Regions from separate parts of the Homo sapiens genome. Here region 1 is linked to region 2. A link means that fine-mapping ties the variant in region 2 to the expression of a gene that starts in the linked region. Tissue or cell type: whole blood. Region 2 holds a variant in brackets; the other region holds the start of a gene. All regions are shown on one strand. Distances are from middle to middle.

Region 1 (8,105 bases), 85 kb before region 2:
TGAAGGATACAAGGATAGGACATCCACCAAGACAAGCGGAAAACAAGAATGTCACAGAAACCGAGGGAAGAGAATCTTACAAGAAGGGGGAAGTTATGCAAAATTACAGAATATTCAAGAAATAATAATGCCTAGGGCGTGTTCTTTCTGCAGGACCCTACTATCCTCAACAAGGAAAGCATCAGGAACAGTGAGGAGGGAGTTTTGGTGGTGTAATGGTGGTGGAAGCTATATCTCAGTGGAATGAGCATGAATAAGAGTGAGGAATTGTAGACAGCAGCTGCAGACAACTCTTGCAAGAAGATTGGCTGTGAGAGGTGGGAACGCAGGGGCTAGCTGGAGGGGACCTGGCACTGAAGGAGGGCTTCTTGACAGGAGTGACTTGAGCATGCTTAAATGTTGATGACAAGGGGTCAGTGAAGGAAAGGAGAGGGGTAGTAGAAGGAACATCATCTCAGAGGAAGGGGGAGGGGGTCCGGAGCATGGTGGAAGTGCCAACTGCTGTGTTGGGAGAAGAGGAAAAGGTGGTTAGAGATGCTGGTCAATGCATTGTTGTGGCAACAGGGAGTAGAGAATTTACACTTGGTGGCTCTATTTTTTTCTCTAAAGTTGATGGGGAGATAATCTCCTAAGAGCAAGAAGGGAGGCAATAGGGCAGAAAGTTTGAGAAGAATAATCATTGTGAGAATGGGAGAGAAAGCTAATTAAAGAGCATAGAATTGCTGGGGAGGGTTGCGAGCAGAAGAGAGGTTGGAGACTAGCACACTAATGGCCTCAATCTTTGGGGTTGGTAATTTTATTCATTGTTGCTCAGCAGCCCAGATGTAAGAGCCAAGAAGAATAGTTTTACTGACCCACGCAGATATAATCTAAGAACAGTGGGCAGGAGAGTTGATGATATTGGGAAGAGTGATTTAAAAGAGGGGTCATGGGAATTCCATGTTGGATAGGGAAAGAAATGATGACTGAGGGAAAGCTTGAGAAGGACAGACTAGAGAAATCAAGGGTCTGATGGAGTTAAAAGAAAAGATGAAGTAGAAGTGGGAGAGGCAGAAAGCCATGAGAAAGCCATGCCATCAGAGTGGGTGTGTGAATTTATGATTTCAGACGGGAAACAGTGCCCAGTAATGACATATCCAAGGTGCAGCCAGGGAAGGGTGTGTCTGAAGCACATGGAAATGAAGGTCATTAAGGAGGTCATGGCAATGAGCTTCCAGGGGTTAGGATGGCTCATCCACACTGGTGACAGGAGGACTAGAGGTAGGGAAGAAGACTGTGAGTCCAGGGCTGAAGTTTCAAGGAATCGAGGAGTGGGCAGGAGGTCAAGGAAAGTCAAGGGTGAGGTTGGGGTAAACATTGATGACTGCCTGATAAATCTCTAATGAACACATGGATGCATGAATCAGTGAATAAGTGAGCAAATGAATGCATTAATTCAGACTAATCTGGCACATTCTGGGAATGCCTAGTCATAAATCTTGAGATTCCCAAAGAAAACACCAGGCTCAGAGAAGGCAGATTACTAGGAGTGTAGAGGCCTCAGGTTATCGTAAGAGTTGAAGATGAGCAAATCTTTTCAGCCTATCCTATCTGAGAAGCTGTTTGCACTCTCCAGAACAGCCCATGTTCAGTACGGTAGCTATTAGCTCCTTGCAGTATTCAGAACCTGAAATACGGCTAGTCCAAATTCAGATGTGATGTCCAAGTAAAATACACACTGGATTTTGAAGACTTAGTACAAAAAAAGAACATAAAATATCTCATCTTGAACTATTGATTACAAGTTAAAATACAAAATTTTTGGATCTATGGGGTAAAATAAAATATTATTAATTAATTTCACTTGCTTTATCAATTGATTTATTTTTACTTTTTACATGAGGCTACTAGAAAATTTTAAATTGCATATGTGGTTCACAACATATTTCTTTTGGGCAGCACTGTCCCAGGCGTTGGTCCGTAGCCTCTGTAATCCTGAAGAAAGCACTATGCCGCCCCAATATTTGCACATGTTCAACCAATAAGTTAATAAATGCAGCCACTCTGTTGGAATTCCACATATATTTGTTGTCATAAGTAAAATTTTAGCCCTCAAGGGCTTAAATTTCTTATAGACTGGAAATGTCCCTTTAAGAGAGCATCTTAAGTCTCTCAAAGTATTGCAAAACCTCCCACTTGCTCCATTACATAGGTTCTGCACCCTGGAAACCATGGTAGTGATGGATGCAGGTGCTCATACTTGTCTTCATTGTTAGCACAGCTGGAATGAATTGAGGGAATCGTCTCTCTTCTTGGGATATTTCTGAAACAATGAGGCTGGAGACTGTGCAGATTGCACTTGTAATTTTCCTCTGACTGGGGAAGCCTAAGGCTCCACTCCTTCGGCCAAGTCTCCTTGGAACCTGTAGTTATTGGCTTGCTTAGTAATACTCATTACAATTTGGAGGGCAGGAGCTCTATTTTAGCCAGAAATTGTGGAAGAAGATCCTACATCAGCCACGTCTGGAGCTGCTTTTCTGCCCAAATCCAAAAATGTAATAGTAAACATTGAGAGTTTATACTGGGTCAGGCACAATGAGGAAACTGAGGCCCCAAGAGCTTAGGCAACCTGAGAGATTCCACAGGTAAAAAGTGGCAGAGCCAGGATTTCAACTCAGTTGGTCTAACTCCAAAGCTTGTGATCCTTATATCACCCTACACCTTCCAACACGGCTGATTATGGACCAGGAAACAAAAAGAGGGAAGCCTCACTTAACTGGCCGCAGAAAAAGCCTCTGAAAGAACATAGATCAGTTGGGCTGACACATTGTGCCCACACTGTGCACTGAACAGCCCAGTTGAGACTGGATCCTTTAGCAGAGGTTCCCAAACCGTGCATTGGAATAAGTAAGTGTTTAAGGGCCTCATTCCAGGGCTGCTAAATCAGAACTCTGGGAGTAGGGCCTAGAAATTTGTATTTTGAAAGCATTTTCCCAGTGGAGATAAGGGAACCGTTACCCTTGATTAGGATCTGATTTGGAACTTGGACTTCTGGATAACTCATGGTACAAAATGGAAGGAGGGTACAAGGAGGGTTTTACTTAAGCTACATCAAAGGAGGGGGCCTGACCTCGGGAGCGCCTTTGGTAGATCCACCATTTGTGCACTAATTTCTAAGCAGCTTCCCAACCTTCAGATTGCTGGGCCTCTGTTTCATCTCAAAGGGATAAGTGCTGTTGCCTGAAGGCAGGCAGACATTGCCACCTCTAGAACTAAGGGTAAGTAGTGGGAAGGCCACAATACTAACTCTCTCCTTCTTCCTCCTATTAGCCTTTCAGTGTTATGATGTACCCAGCTGGTCCAGGATCTGGTGACTCCCCAGAAGGCTTCCCTGAACAACCAAGGCTCCAGCCACAAACTGGAAATCGTGCAACTCAGACACTGGGTACTGAAACTGGGTGCATTGTCCAGTCCCTCCTTCAGAGCCTGTTTGGGGTAGAAGATTGGGGGAGGGGGACTGGGGAAGAGAGACTCAAAGAGGTCGCAGGTGGCACAGAAGTGATGGCAGAACTGGCCTTCATTTAGTGACATATGCTTTGTTCAACCAGTCAGTAAAGGCTTATGTGGTGGCTAGTAGTGCTAGCGAATGCAGATTCGGCCGCTTGCAAAACCAACGAGCAAGGTCGTGGTATGGTAGAAGGAGACTGACTTTATTATAAACCAAAGCTAGCAGTGGGGAAAAACGATCCAGGCTTTTGCTTTAATGGAGCTGCTTCACATTTCCAAGCAAAATGCGAGGCTTTAAGAAGTTTTGGCATGGAGGGTATGCAAGGGGTGAGGCAGTGCAGGTCTTCATGACGAGTTCTGATGACTTGTCTTGAGTTACTGCCCATCTGGTGAATGGGCTGGCATCATCTCGGGCTGGGCTGAGTTATAAATTAACTGTAGCCTTGAATCAATCTCCTGGTGGAGATTTCCACAGATGCCTATATTGTTTCAAGATTTAGTCTCTGGAACTTTTAAGCGAACATACAATTAGATATGCTAACAGTGTGTATGGGGGGTGCTGGGGTGTCGGGGGGTGCCTAGTGGTTAACTGAACAAAAATAAAGAAATAGAAGTATATAACAAGAATATAACTTCCAAGCTGGGTACTTGGTTACAATAGGTGCTTGGATTGTATTAGAGATACCTCAAAGTGAGCAAACAACCAGCCAGAACTGGTCCCTGGCCTTGTGGAAGTTTCTCTCTTCTGTCTCTCTCCTCTCTCCCTTCTCTCTCTCCTCTCTTTGTCCTCTCTCCTTTCTTTCTTGACTTCCTTACCAATGGGAAACCCTGTTTTTCTAGATTAGGGAAAAGAAGGCCCGTTTAGAAAGTAGGGAAGGAGACAAAGTCTTACTTCCTGAAGCAAGGTAGGACTCAATTTGTGACCTAGAATCTGAGACAGGGAAGTAGAGGCAGGAAAACGGGGGAAATGGGGGAATAACTCGCTTCCTTTCTGGGTCGAGAAGGGCTAGAAGTCAAGGTTCAGTGGAGCCTTAGAGAAAGTCCAGCTCTTCATTTTACAGGTGAGGAAACTGAGGGGCGGAGAGGCTATAGTGTGGTAACAAGGTGGACACCTAGTCAGCTGCAGAAGTGGGAATAAACTGTGGCCTTTGAATAACACTATGGGGCCTCCAGTGAGGCGCTCAATTTTAATTCGGGACGCCTGGGTGGCAGCCGGGTGCTAGGGGTGGCTAGTTGCCATGGGAACCGGCTCCTCCCACTTCCTGCGTGCGCACCCGTAGACCTGCGCTCCCAATAAAGTTGTTGTTGAAGCGCGGCGGCGGCACCACGTGGGCCGGACCGGGCCGGGGGCGGGGCCGAGCTGAGGGAGGACCTGCTGGCTGCAGTGAGGAGCGGAGGCGGGCGCGGGCGGCCGGCCATGATCGCGTCGTGCTTGTGTTACCTGCTGCTGCCGGCCACGCGCCTCTTCCGCGCCCTCTCAGGTACCGGCCAGGCGTACCGACAGACAGGAGCCCGGCCAGGGCTCGCCTCTGCGGGGCTCCGCGGGCCTGGGGCGGCGTGCGGTTGGCCGGGCCTCACGACTACCGTGCCCCGGGCAGTGCCGAGGTGTAGGGAGGCGGTCCTGAGCCCCTGCCCCGCGGGCCCCTCCTGACCCCACGAGGCCTGGACCTGGCCGACGTCCCTCGTGGGCGGCCCCTCCTCCCGCCTGTTGTCAGATGGCGTCCGGCCGCGGTTAAGGTGGAGAGGAGCTGTGGACGGGCAGGGCCCTTTCCTGGCCCTGGGGGTGCAGAGAAATTGTGGGGTCGGCCAAGTCAGCACCCCGGCGGGTCGGGAAGGGGTAGTAGCTCGGACCTAGGCGAGTGCCCAAATTCTCAGCGGGCGAGGCGGGTCGGCTCTGGGAGGTTTATGGCCGAAGTACTGGACGCACCGATCTTCCCCAGGTTAACTTCACACTCGCCTTTCACTGCCACCTGGCAGCTCTCGCTCACCGGTGTCTTTGGTTGAAAAACGGACGTTCAATCAGAGACACATTTAGATCTCAGCTTTGGAGCATTCCTGCCCCCACTCCCGGCGGTTTAGAGGGAGATGTGCTGGGGTGGGGGCAATGCCCAGTCGATACCTCAAAGAGGGGGTGTTTATTTCGTTATTGTTTCATAATTTGTCTGCATTCTCTATTTCTGGGCTTTGAAATTACGGAGGGTTTTATGCGACCATCAGTTTCTGAGATCCCATGGAACTCGCAGACTTTTTGCCTTTAATTTATGGGACAGGACCAAGAAGTACTTAGGAATGAGGGCTCCAATTGTATATTCTGTGGTTTTCCTTTGTGGAACTTTACACAATTGGTACGCAATGTGTGTGTCATTGATAATATATATTTCATATAGAAATATTTTAAATTTTACTGTGTATCTGCCATTAGAATGCAAACTTCAGGAGCGCAGGGCCACGTCCATTTTGTTCGCTGTATCTCTGGTGTTAACACATTGCTTGGTATACAGTAGGCACTCAGTGAATTCAGGAATGTCTTGTGTGTCCATACTTCTGAGGAATGTGGGAAACTCCACAGAAGTAATTGTTTCCAGAGAACTAAACATATTCTTTTAACTATGTTGCTGTTTTTCCTGGAGCTCTTCTAATGCCTTAGTGATACAGTATACTAGTCCAGAGGTTTCCAGACCAGTAGAGTTCTAGGGATCTCAGAGGAGGGCCCCCCCCGCCCCCCCACCTACACATTACAGTAGTCCCACTTATATTTACTTGGCATATTTGGTTTCCAGATAAGATTTTTAAAAAACAAAAGCATTCTGCTGCTGAAAATCCACCACCACCACCACCAAAAGACATCTACCAAAATTGAAAGCTAGTAACTTCGTGCATATGAACCAAAGAACCTCTGCCATCTGGTATACACAGAGGATATTTCAAGGGGCAGATAATCAGGAAGTCCTTGAGGCTAAAGCTCAACGACCCAGCCCATACATAGGTTTAGAGCAGGGTTTCTCAATCTCAGCACTGTTGACGTTTTGGACCGGATCATTTGGTGTGGGTCTGTCCTGTGAATTGTTGGAAGTTCAGCAGCGTCTCTGTCCTCTAACCACTAGATGCCAGTAGCAATGCTGCAGTTGTGACAACAACAGTGTCTCTGAACGTTGCTAAATGTCTTCCGAGGGCAAAATCACCGTGGTTAAAACCATTGTTTAGAAGGACATAAATATACATAGACCCCAAACAAGATATTTGAACCGTCTTTCAATATTTGAGCCACTTTTAAGGTTTCTTCCCTTTAAAAAAAAATTGCCAATAAAATGAGTCTAGTGATTGAGGGCCAGCATCGTGCATGTTACTCGTCCTGTGCTGTAAATAAATGGTTGAGTGTGTGAGTGTAGGAGTTGTTTGCTCTCACCAAAATACTGTGCTCAGAGTTTGGGGGCTCTAATTTTAGAGTTTTTCCCACTTTCTTTCTTGCCTGTTGGCTGTCATTGGTGGCTGCAGTATCAGAGAGATGTCAGCTGTCTCTTACTGTCGATTGTTGGCACCTTGTAATTTATAGCCTCTGATGTGTTGTGGAATGGGAAAGCAGATAATGAAGTTTGTGAAGATTTTATTACAATAAGTAGCTTTGAGAAAAGGCTTAAGGGCCCTTGCTAAGATGTAAATTGTATAGATTTTTGAGACTGTCTACTTTAGGACTTTTTCTTTTGGAATACATTAATAGATTAGGGAATTTATACAGCTAGAAAAGCTCAGAGATTATCTAGTTCAAACTTGTCTCTATTTTTTTAAATTTAAAATTTATTTTTTTCTTTTCTTTTCTTTTTTTTTTTGAGATGAGGTCTCACTTTGTCTCCCAGGCGGGAGTGCAGAAGGGCAGTCATAGCTCACTGCAGCGTCAACCTGGGCTCAAGCAATCCTCTCATTTCAGCCTCCCAAGTAGCTAGGACCATGGGCATGTGCCACCGTACTTGGCTAATTTTTAATTTTTTGTAGAGATGAAGTTTCGTTATGTTGCCCAGGCTGGTCTCTAACTCCTGGCCTCAAGTGATCCTGCTGCCTCTGTCTCTGCCTCCCAAAGTGCTGGGAGCCACCACGCCTGGCCTCTTGTCCCCATTTTACAGTCAAGAGTAACTTCATCTGACTAGGGGCATTGTTCAAGGTCAGTTTTATTAATTTTGGTGCTAGATCATAACCCACAGTTCTGATTAACAGTCAGTTGCTGGTTGCAATGTAATGTGATTCTTAGAACCAAAGAGTTTGTTAATAGTAGTCTTAACTAAGTCATGTAAAAGGAGTGTGGGTATATGTGCCCATCTGTGTTCTAGATTATGTGAGACAGCTGTTCTTTCATGCACTGAATATTTATCAGATCCCTGCCATATAAATTAGTCAACACTTGTAAAGAACAGTGCCTGGCACATAGTGAATACTTTGCCCTGATGATGATGATGATGTTCAGGCATTAAGGTAGGCAGGCTCAGTGATGGTACAATGATGAGCAAGGTGGATATGGGTCTTGCTTTTATTGGGCTTATGTTTTAGCTGGGAGAATAGTGTGGGTTGGATGACAGTCTTATAACCTGGTATTTTGGCTTTCCTCCTAGATGCTTTCTTCACATGTC
Region 2 (8,105 bases):
GTGTGTGTGTGTGTGTGTGTGTGTGTGTGTGTGTGTGTGTGTGTGTGTTTATTAGAGGTAGGATTTCACCATGTTGGCCAGGCTGGTCTAGAACTCCTGACCTCAAATGATCCACCCACCTCGGCTTCCCAAAGTGCTGGGATTACAGGCGTGAGCCACCACACCCAGACATACTTACTTTTTTTTTTTTAAAAGAGATAGAATCTTGCTTTGTCACCCTGGCTGGAGTGCAGTGATATGATCATAGCTCACTGTAACCTCTAACTCCTGGTCTCAAGTGATCCTCTTGCCTCAGCCTCTCAAGTAGCTGGGACTACAGGGATGCACCACCACGCCTGGGTAATTTATTTTATTTTAGTTTTTGTAGAGATAGGATCTATCTGTATTGCCCAGGCTGGTCTTGAACTCCTGGCCTCAAGTGATCCTCCTGCCTTGTGCTGGGATTACAGGCATAAGCCACTGTGCCCAGCTGTACAACATCATTCTTGATGGCTGCATAGTGCTCTAGTGAATAGATGTATTGTAAGATATTTAACCTATTTTGGGTGTTTCCAGGATTTTGCTAAGATGAATGAGACCAAGATGAACATTCTTCCAGCAAAATCATTGCATCCATGATTATTTCCTTGGAATAAATTTCTAGATGTACAGTTTTGAAATTTGACACTAAAGGAGTACAAACATGCCAACCCCCAAATATACTGTCCTGGCATATTGACTGTTTTGAGTTAAAGGCACTTAAAAAACAGGGGGTACTCTTAGAAGATCCCTCTGACCTTCCTTTTGTTTCTTAAAAGCAGGAGATGAAATTGTCATGTGAAAGATATCTTCCTTATACCAGAAAAAAAGAATCATTCTTGTCATCAAGAATAGGAAGTCGAGGCAGGGGAAATCTGTACTTGGTAGACTAATTCTTATCTTCCTAGTCACTCCTCTACCCAAGTAACTACCCTAGCCCAAGCCCCTTTGTCTTGTTACATTTTACTACTGTTTGCCCAATTTAGTATATAAATGTTCAACTATGTGTCTTTGAGTCTTCATTTCCTTATGAGTGCCCCTGGGTCATGTAAACTTGTATTGAATGAAGTTGTATGCTTTGCTCCTCTTGATTTTCTCTTATTATGTCATTTAATTTGCAAGCTCAGTTGATAAGCCCTAAGGAAGGTAGAGGTAAAATTTTACTCCTCTACATCACATTATGCTGCACTTAATTTAACAGTGTAAGAGCATCAGTGCAACGTGGGTCATTTGTGATGCTACCCATAAGATGTCCTGGGGCCTTCTCCTATATCAGCAGTACTGCAGTGGCCTCTCCTTGGTTTAGGAAGGACACCTTCCAGTGTGATCACTGGAAGCTTGGGGGACCACTGTGTACAACACATAGTATAAGCTCAGTCATTATTTGCCAAATGAACAAATAAATGAATATAGACTCAGTATGACTACTGGTCCACAAATGCAGATATTCAAGAATACAACATTTCTGTGTACTCCTCAAGTCAACGTGGATTAATCCCACCTGTGAAAGTGGTGGGAAGTTAAATTTCAGTAATTACTGAGTCTCTCTGACAGTGTTCCACCTGCCCCAGGTCATTCAATGTTCTTAAAGCCTTAAGCACTAAAGACTCATCTGGGATTTGCTGCCAGTCCCCTGCCCCACTGGTCACTCTGCGACCTCTGTGTCTCAGCTTGAACAGTCCCTTTCGGCTCCTGCTCCTGCTGCATCCATGCCACACTTGGGGCAAGGGACTCTTGGGAAAACTTGAGGCCCTTAGTGCCTGGAGTTCAGCACCCTTAGGTGTACCAATAGCCATCTGTCTCTTTAGATCTTTCCAGAAAGAGATGCATGGCTCCCCATTGCAGGCTAGGGGATTCTCTCTTTGAAACCAGACCAATTGTTCCATGGAACTGATGTTTATGGTTTCTTTGGAATAAACATAGGAATGGACCCTCCCAGTCTTAAAACATGAGGAATTTACATTTGTCTTATTCAAGTTCCTTTCTCAGGAAACCAACCATCAAGCCTCCCAGACAGTATCAAAGAACTGAAACTTACCAGATCACCACGTCTGGACAGTGAGATCTCTCACCAGTCATGATTGCCTCACAGACCACCTGCTGTCTGTTGACCAACTCTTTTTTACTCTCCCTAATTCCTGTTTTCCCACACATAGTTACATTCCTTCCTTGCTATATAAACTCCTAATTTTAGTTGATTGAAGAGACAGATTTGAGACTGACCTCCCATTCTCCTTGGCCACAGCACCCAAATCAAGCATTCTGCTCTGGTAATACTTGTAGTCTCAGTGATTGGCTTTCTGTGCAGCAAGGAATGGGACACCTGGCATTCTGTGCAGCAAGCAATGGGATGCCTGGCATTTCAGTAACATCTTCTGCCCCTGGAGCTGTACCCCACAGGCTTAAGGAAATTGGTCACGGGCTGAGCATGGTGGTAATCCCAACACTTTGGGAGGCCAAGGCGGATGGATCACTTGAGGTCAGGAGTTCGAGACCAGCCTGGCCAATGTGGTGAAACCCCATCTCTACTAAAAATACAAAAATTAGCCGGGTGTGGTGGTGCATCCTGTAATCCCAGCTACTCGGGAGGCTGAGGCAGGAGAATTGCTAGAACCCAGGAGGCGGAGGTTGCAGTGAGCCAAGATCGTGCCACTGCTCTCCAGTCTGGGTGACAGAGCAAGACTCCATCTCAAAAAAAAGAAAAGAAAAGAAAAGAAAAGAAAAGAAAAGAAATTGGTCACTGACCAGAAACCTTGAGCTTGACTTACAGGATGGTAGATAAGGAAACAGCTTGATACAATCCCCTCCAGTTGCAACAATAACTGGCTCACTGGCTGAAACTGGAACCAATATGGCTGACTAGAGTCTTCCCAGAATAGACTTACTTGCCCAGTGGGTGACTTTTGACATCACAGCCAAAATTTCCACTGCATATTTCATACCAACTCACCCTGAATTTGCGTGTGTGACTCATGAAGAAGCTTGAAGACACAACTATACACGTTCAAGGGCCTTTCCAAAATTCCTCTCCTTTGCTGCCAATCACTAACCACCCCAAAGCTCCTCCTCAGAATCTCTCCCTTAAATATACTGCTTCAAGGCTGGTCTTGCAATGTACCTTTCTCTACAGAAATATCTGCAAAAATGCTCCAGGGTGTGGCTTTCCATTGTGCATGAGCAAACAGACTCAGTTTGGTTCAGCAACACCCCTTGCTACTCTTGTTCCCCTCTTCATGTAGAACACATCTCTTTATTACATTTATCCCATTTCCCCTTACCCTACTGCCACCAGCAACGAAGGAGACATGGACTTGAAGCTCTTTAGCTTTCTGTGCTGCGAAATCTCAAAGGCAAGCAATTCTAAAGGGTCTGGCTACCCACTTAAAATCAGAGCAGGGACGAATCTATGGGAGAGCAAGACCAAACTATAATCTCAAATGATTGTGCTGCAAATGGATTCATAAAATGTTAAAGAGGGCGGTAATGCCTCAGAAAAGAGAATCCTCATTGTGGTGATTGAGCTGGCTTTAGGATGCCCACGGTAGTGATACATCTCACCGTGGAGAAGGGAGAGGTGGGGCTCTTTGGTCATTTAGGTCACTTCTGCACTGTGGTAACACGTTTACATGCCACAAATGCATGGTTAGGCAAAAAGGTGTTTTTTCTTGTTTAATTTTTCTTTTCTATTTCTCTCTCCTCTGGGATTGGTATTTTCCAACATTAAGCAGATTAATGTGCATGTGTTGCAGATTTCATGTGGCTTAGAGTTGTGTGGTATAGGGGAGGCAGAATTTTACCCCTACCTTTTTAAGGTTTTTCAGCTGGGCCTGAGAATTAAAGTGACATAAGACAGATCCACAGGATAAAAGAATACTAGTATATTTAGTACAAGTTTTCCATGGCATGGGGGCCTTCATAAAGAATTGAAGACCCAAAGACACAGCTAGAGTCGAACACTTACATACTGAATTAGACAGAATAGTAGAATTGTGAAAAAGTAACTAAATTCAGTGGGGAGGCTAAAAAAGGTAAGTTATTTTAACAAGGTCTGTACAGAATTCTCTCCACTAAAGCTTCCATTCTTGATAATAAGACTGTTACTTTCCTTGTAGTATAGGGAAAGTATACTTTCCCTATACTGTGGGAAAGAAAGCATCTTTCACATGGCAGTTTCATCTCCTGCTTTTAAGAAACAGAAGGAATGTCAGAATGATCTTCTTGCACCTGCTGTTTTTCAAATGCCTTTAACTCAAAATAGTCAATATGCCAGGGCAGCATATTTTGGGGAAGGCATGTTCTTATCTCCTTCAGTGGGAATGAGACAGTTGGAAACATTGTATGATTTGGAGAGGAAGCCCTGCATTTTCAGAGGCCTTTGTTTTGGGTGTGCCTTAACTGCACCTGCATTTCTTGCCGTTTCTTACAAAGAAACTTCCTTTTGAGAATCAAAATATTTCAGCTGAAGTTATTTTCAACCACAGGGAAATGTTTGAAATGTCAGCCTTTGTTAGCCCAAAGAATATTGTTTCATGAACAGTGATCGAAATAGTCATTTCCTTTGGGAAGCCTCTGCCATTGAAACAAACTTTGATTTTGGAAGCAAAATTTTGGCTTTAAAGATGTCATCCAAGTGTTACAACTTTTTCTAATAGCTCCCTGGCCATGTATTGTAGAGCTATGATAGGTTGTTTGGGTTTGAACAAGAAAACATGTTCTGGCTAGGTTGGGCAGTGTTA[A/G]GAGGAGGGACAGTATAGTGGTGGGGAGCAAATCCCTTACAGCCGGGCTGCCTGGATTTGCAATCCTCGTCATGCCACTGCAAGCTGACTCTTCGGCAAGTTATGTAACTGTTCTGGTCTCAGTTCCTGCATCTATAAAATAGGGGTGATGGTAGTATTTACTGCCTATGATTGTTATAATTATTAATTAGTGTATTAAAAAGCACTTAGAGGCTAGCACAGAGGCTAGGCGTTATAATTATTAATTAGTGTATTAAAAAGCACTTAGAGGCTAGCACAGAGGCTAGGCATGGTGGCTCATGCCTGTAATCCCAAAACTTTGGGAGGTGAAGGCAGGAGAATTGCTTGAGGTCAGGAATTTGAGACCAGCCTGGGCAACATGGTGAGACTAAGTCTCTACAAAAAATACAAAACTTAGCCAGATATGGTGCTGCACACCTGTAATCCCAGCTACTCAGGAGGCTAAGGTGGGAGGATCGTTTGAACCCGGGAGGATAAGGCTGCAGTGAGTCGTAATTGTGCCGCTGCACGCCAGCCTGGATAACAGAGTAAGACCGTGTCTCAAAACAAAACAACAACAACAACAAAACAACAAAAAAACAAAAAAAAGCACTTAGAGATGGCTAAATGCTAATCCAATAAGGGCTGTAGTTTAGTTAATAGTATTGCATTCATGTACATTTCCTGGTTAGATACAGGAGTGCTGGGAAGGGAAGGGTGTAGTTCTTTTAAATGATAGGGAAGGGAGAAGGGAAGTGCTGGGTAGAGGAGGGCGTGGTCTCTGGCTAGGGCTCCACCCCCACCGACCTAGGTGAGGACAGGAATTTACTGCCCAAATGTTGCATTTTCCAAGACCACCCTGGCCTGCCATGCCCCCATCCTGTGCCTATAAAAACCCGAGACCCTAGCAAGGCAGAAACAGCAGCAGCTGGAAGTCAAGAGGAGTGCTCTGTGGAGGAACACACCCACAGGCACCAGCATGCCGGCAGGCCACTGACTGGCAAAACAACGCGGTGTTTGGCTGGGGCAGTCGGAGGAGCGCTCGGGCCGCCAAGCAGACCGACTCCAGGGAAAACCATCTCCCTTCTGGCTCCCCCATCTGCTAAGAGGTACTTCCACTCAGTAAAACCTTCCGCTCATTCTCCAAGCCCACATATGATCCGATTCTTTGGTGCACCAAGGCAAGAACCTGGGGATATAGAAAGCCCTCTGTCCTTGCAATAAGGCAGGGGTCTAATTGAGCTGACTAAAACAAGCCACCTATAGCCGGCCAAACTAAAAGCAAAACTAAAAGAGCACACTGGGCTAGGTGCGGTGGCTCACGCCTGTAATCCCAGCACTTTGGGAGGCCTCATGAGGTCAGGAGTTTCAGACCAGCCTGGCCAAGATGGTGAAACCCCGTCTCTACTAAAAATACAAAAATTAGCCGGGCGCGGTGGCGGGCGCCTGTAATCCCAGCTACTCGGGAGGCTGAGGCAGAAAATTGCTTAAACCCGGGAGGCGGAGGTTGCAGTGAGCCAAGATCACACCGCTGCACTCCAGCCTGGGCAACAAAGCGAGACTCGGTCTCAAAACACACACATACACACACACACACACACACACACACACACAGTAACACGCCCACTAGGGCTTCAGCTGTAAACATTCACCCCTAGACACTGCCATGGGGTCGGAGGCCCATAGCGTGCCTGTCTGTATGCTCCCCTACAGGTTTGAGCAGCAGGGCACTGAAAAAGCAAGCCACATCCCCATCGCACGCCCTGCAAGGGGGACAAGGGAACTTTTCCCATTTCAGTTGTGATGATTGTACTATGAATATGCAGGATGTTACCATTGGAGGAAGCTGGATTAAGGGTACACGGGAACTATATAGTATATCTATGTGCACTTCTACATGAGTCTAAAATTATTTTAAAAATACAAAGTTAAAAAGTACTTAGGGAAACTATATTTGGTAGTATGATTCTTTGAGTAAGGTTTGTCTTTGACAGGAGACTGTGGACTGTAAACTCTCTGAAGTTAAGGACTATTACTGTTTTCCCCAGCACCTAGTACAGTGCATGGCACATAGTTGGTCTTCAATAACTATTTGCTGACTGAAAATGAATAAAGAAGATACTAAGGGTACCGGCCAGCAGAACTTTAAGCAACAAAAGAGAGACAAACCAGTTCCTGCATTAAGGTGGGAGGAAAGAGGTGAGAGGGCCATGCACCAATATTTGGTAAGACCTTCAAAACACATGCACACACACATGCATGCCCGCAAACACATGTACACACACAACATGCACCTGCCCCTGTGCAAATTAGGGAGTGGTTTGAGTGCCACGGATGGGTCAATGGTATGTGTGCCAACAGCAACAACAGCAGGATGGCAAGGTGATTCCTAAAGTGATGTGATTCTGCAGATGCAGCTCAGAGCCAGTGGTGAGCACAAGAATTTGGGATGAATCCATGTTATCTGGATTTTGGGTGGCTTGGTGAACCCAGCTGACAGTTTTAGTAAATAAACCTAGACGATCTTTTTCTGTACTCAAATGTTAAATGTAAGGACAATTGTTTAAACATCGTTCTAGTCTAAGGAAAGCTAGAATGCTACCTAGTTTGCTAGAATATACCCAGAAACAGGGGAAGAGGGTTGATATGGTTTGGCTGTGTCCCCCGCCAAATCTCATCTTAAATTGTAGTTCCCATAATCCCCACGTGTCATGAGAGGGACTTGGTGGGAGATAATTGAATCATGGGGGAACTTATCCTCATGCTGTTCTCGTGATAGTGAGTTCTTACAAGAGCTGATTTATAAGGGGCTTTCCCCCTTTTTGCTTGGCACTTCTTCCTGCCACCATTTGAAGAAAGATGTGTTTGCTTCCCCTTCCATTGTCATTGTAAGTTTCCTGAGGACTCCCCAGCCATCTGAACTGTGAGTCAATTAAACCTCTTTCCTATATAAATTACCCAGTCTGGGGTATGTCTTTATTAGTAGCGAGAGAACGGACTAACACAGGGTCAAATTCAAGAATTAAGCTATGCTGCTGGTAATATCAGGGTCACACCACATATGTGATAAGCCTATCAGAACATCACAGGGTTTAAACTGATACTACCATTTATGATTTGGAAAGGTTCTAGAAATTAAGAGATGCTTTGCTGCATTTGTAACTCTAAGAAATACAAAAGGTTTGGGTGTGAATTAGGTTTCTCTATTATATACAGGGTGTTAAATCAGACTTTGCAAACAATCCTAGGCAAAACTTACAAGGTCTGAAAGCATTTCCCAGAAGCTATTCACAATGCCTGACTTAAATACTCTGTATATAAAATTATAATGTAAAACTGTTGTTCCAATTT

The links. PIP is the estimated chance that this variant, and not a neighbour inherited with it, causes the effect.
Region 1: it holds the start of ANGEL1, and the variant in region 2 is fine-mapped to the expression of ANGEL1 in whole blood (TOPMed, PIP 0.90).

What each region holds. Positions count from the first base shown.
Region 1 is chr14:76,809,626-76,817,730 of GRCh38, reverse strand. It overlaps ANGEL1 (angel homolog 1), which reads left to right and starts at 4,849. Exons shown (of 10, transcript NM_015305.4): 1 at 4,849-4,967; 2 at 8,088-8,105. The coding sequence starts at 4,904. RefSeq lists a silencer at 4,782-5,211 and enhancers at 4,660-5,233, 5,234-5,808.
Region 2 is chr14:76,724,277-76,732,381 of GRCh38, reverse strand. It overlaps LOC105370577 (a long non-coding RNA gene), which reads left to right and starts at 5,671. Exons shown (of 2, transcript XR_007064273.1): 1 at 5,671-5,863. The variant A/G (reference allele first, on the strand shown) is at 4,755.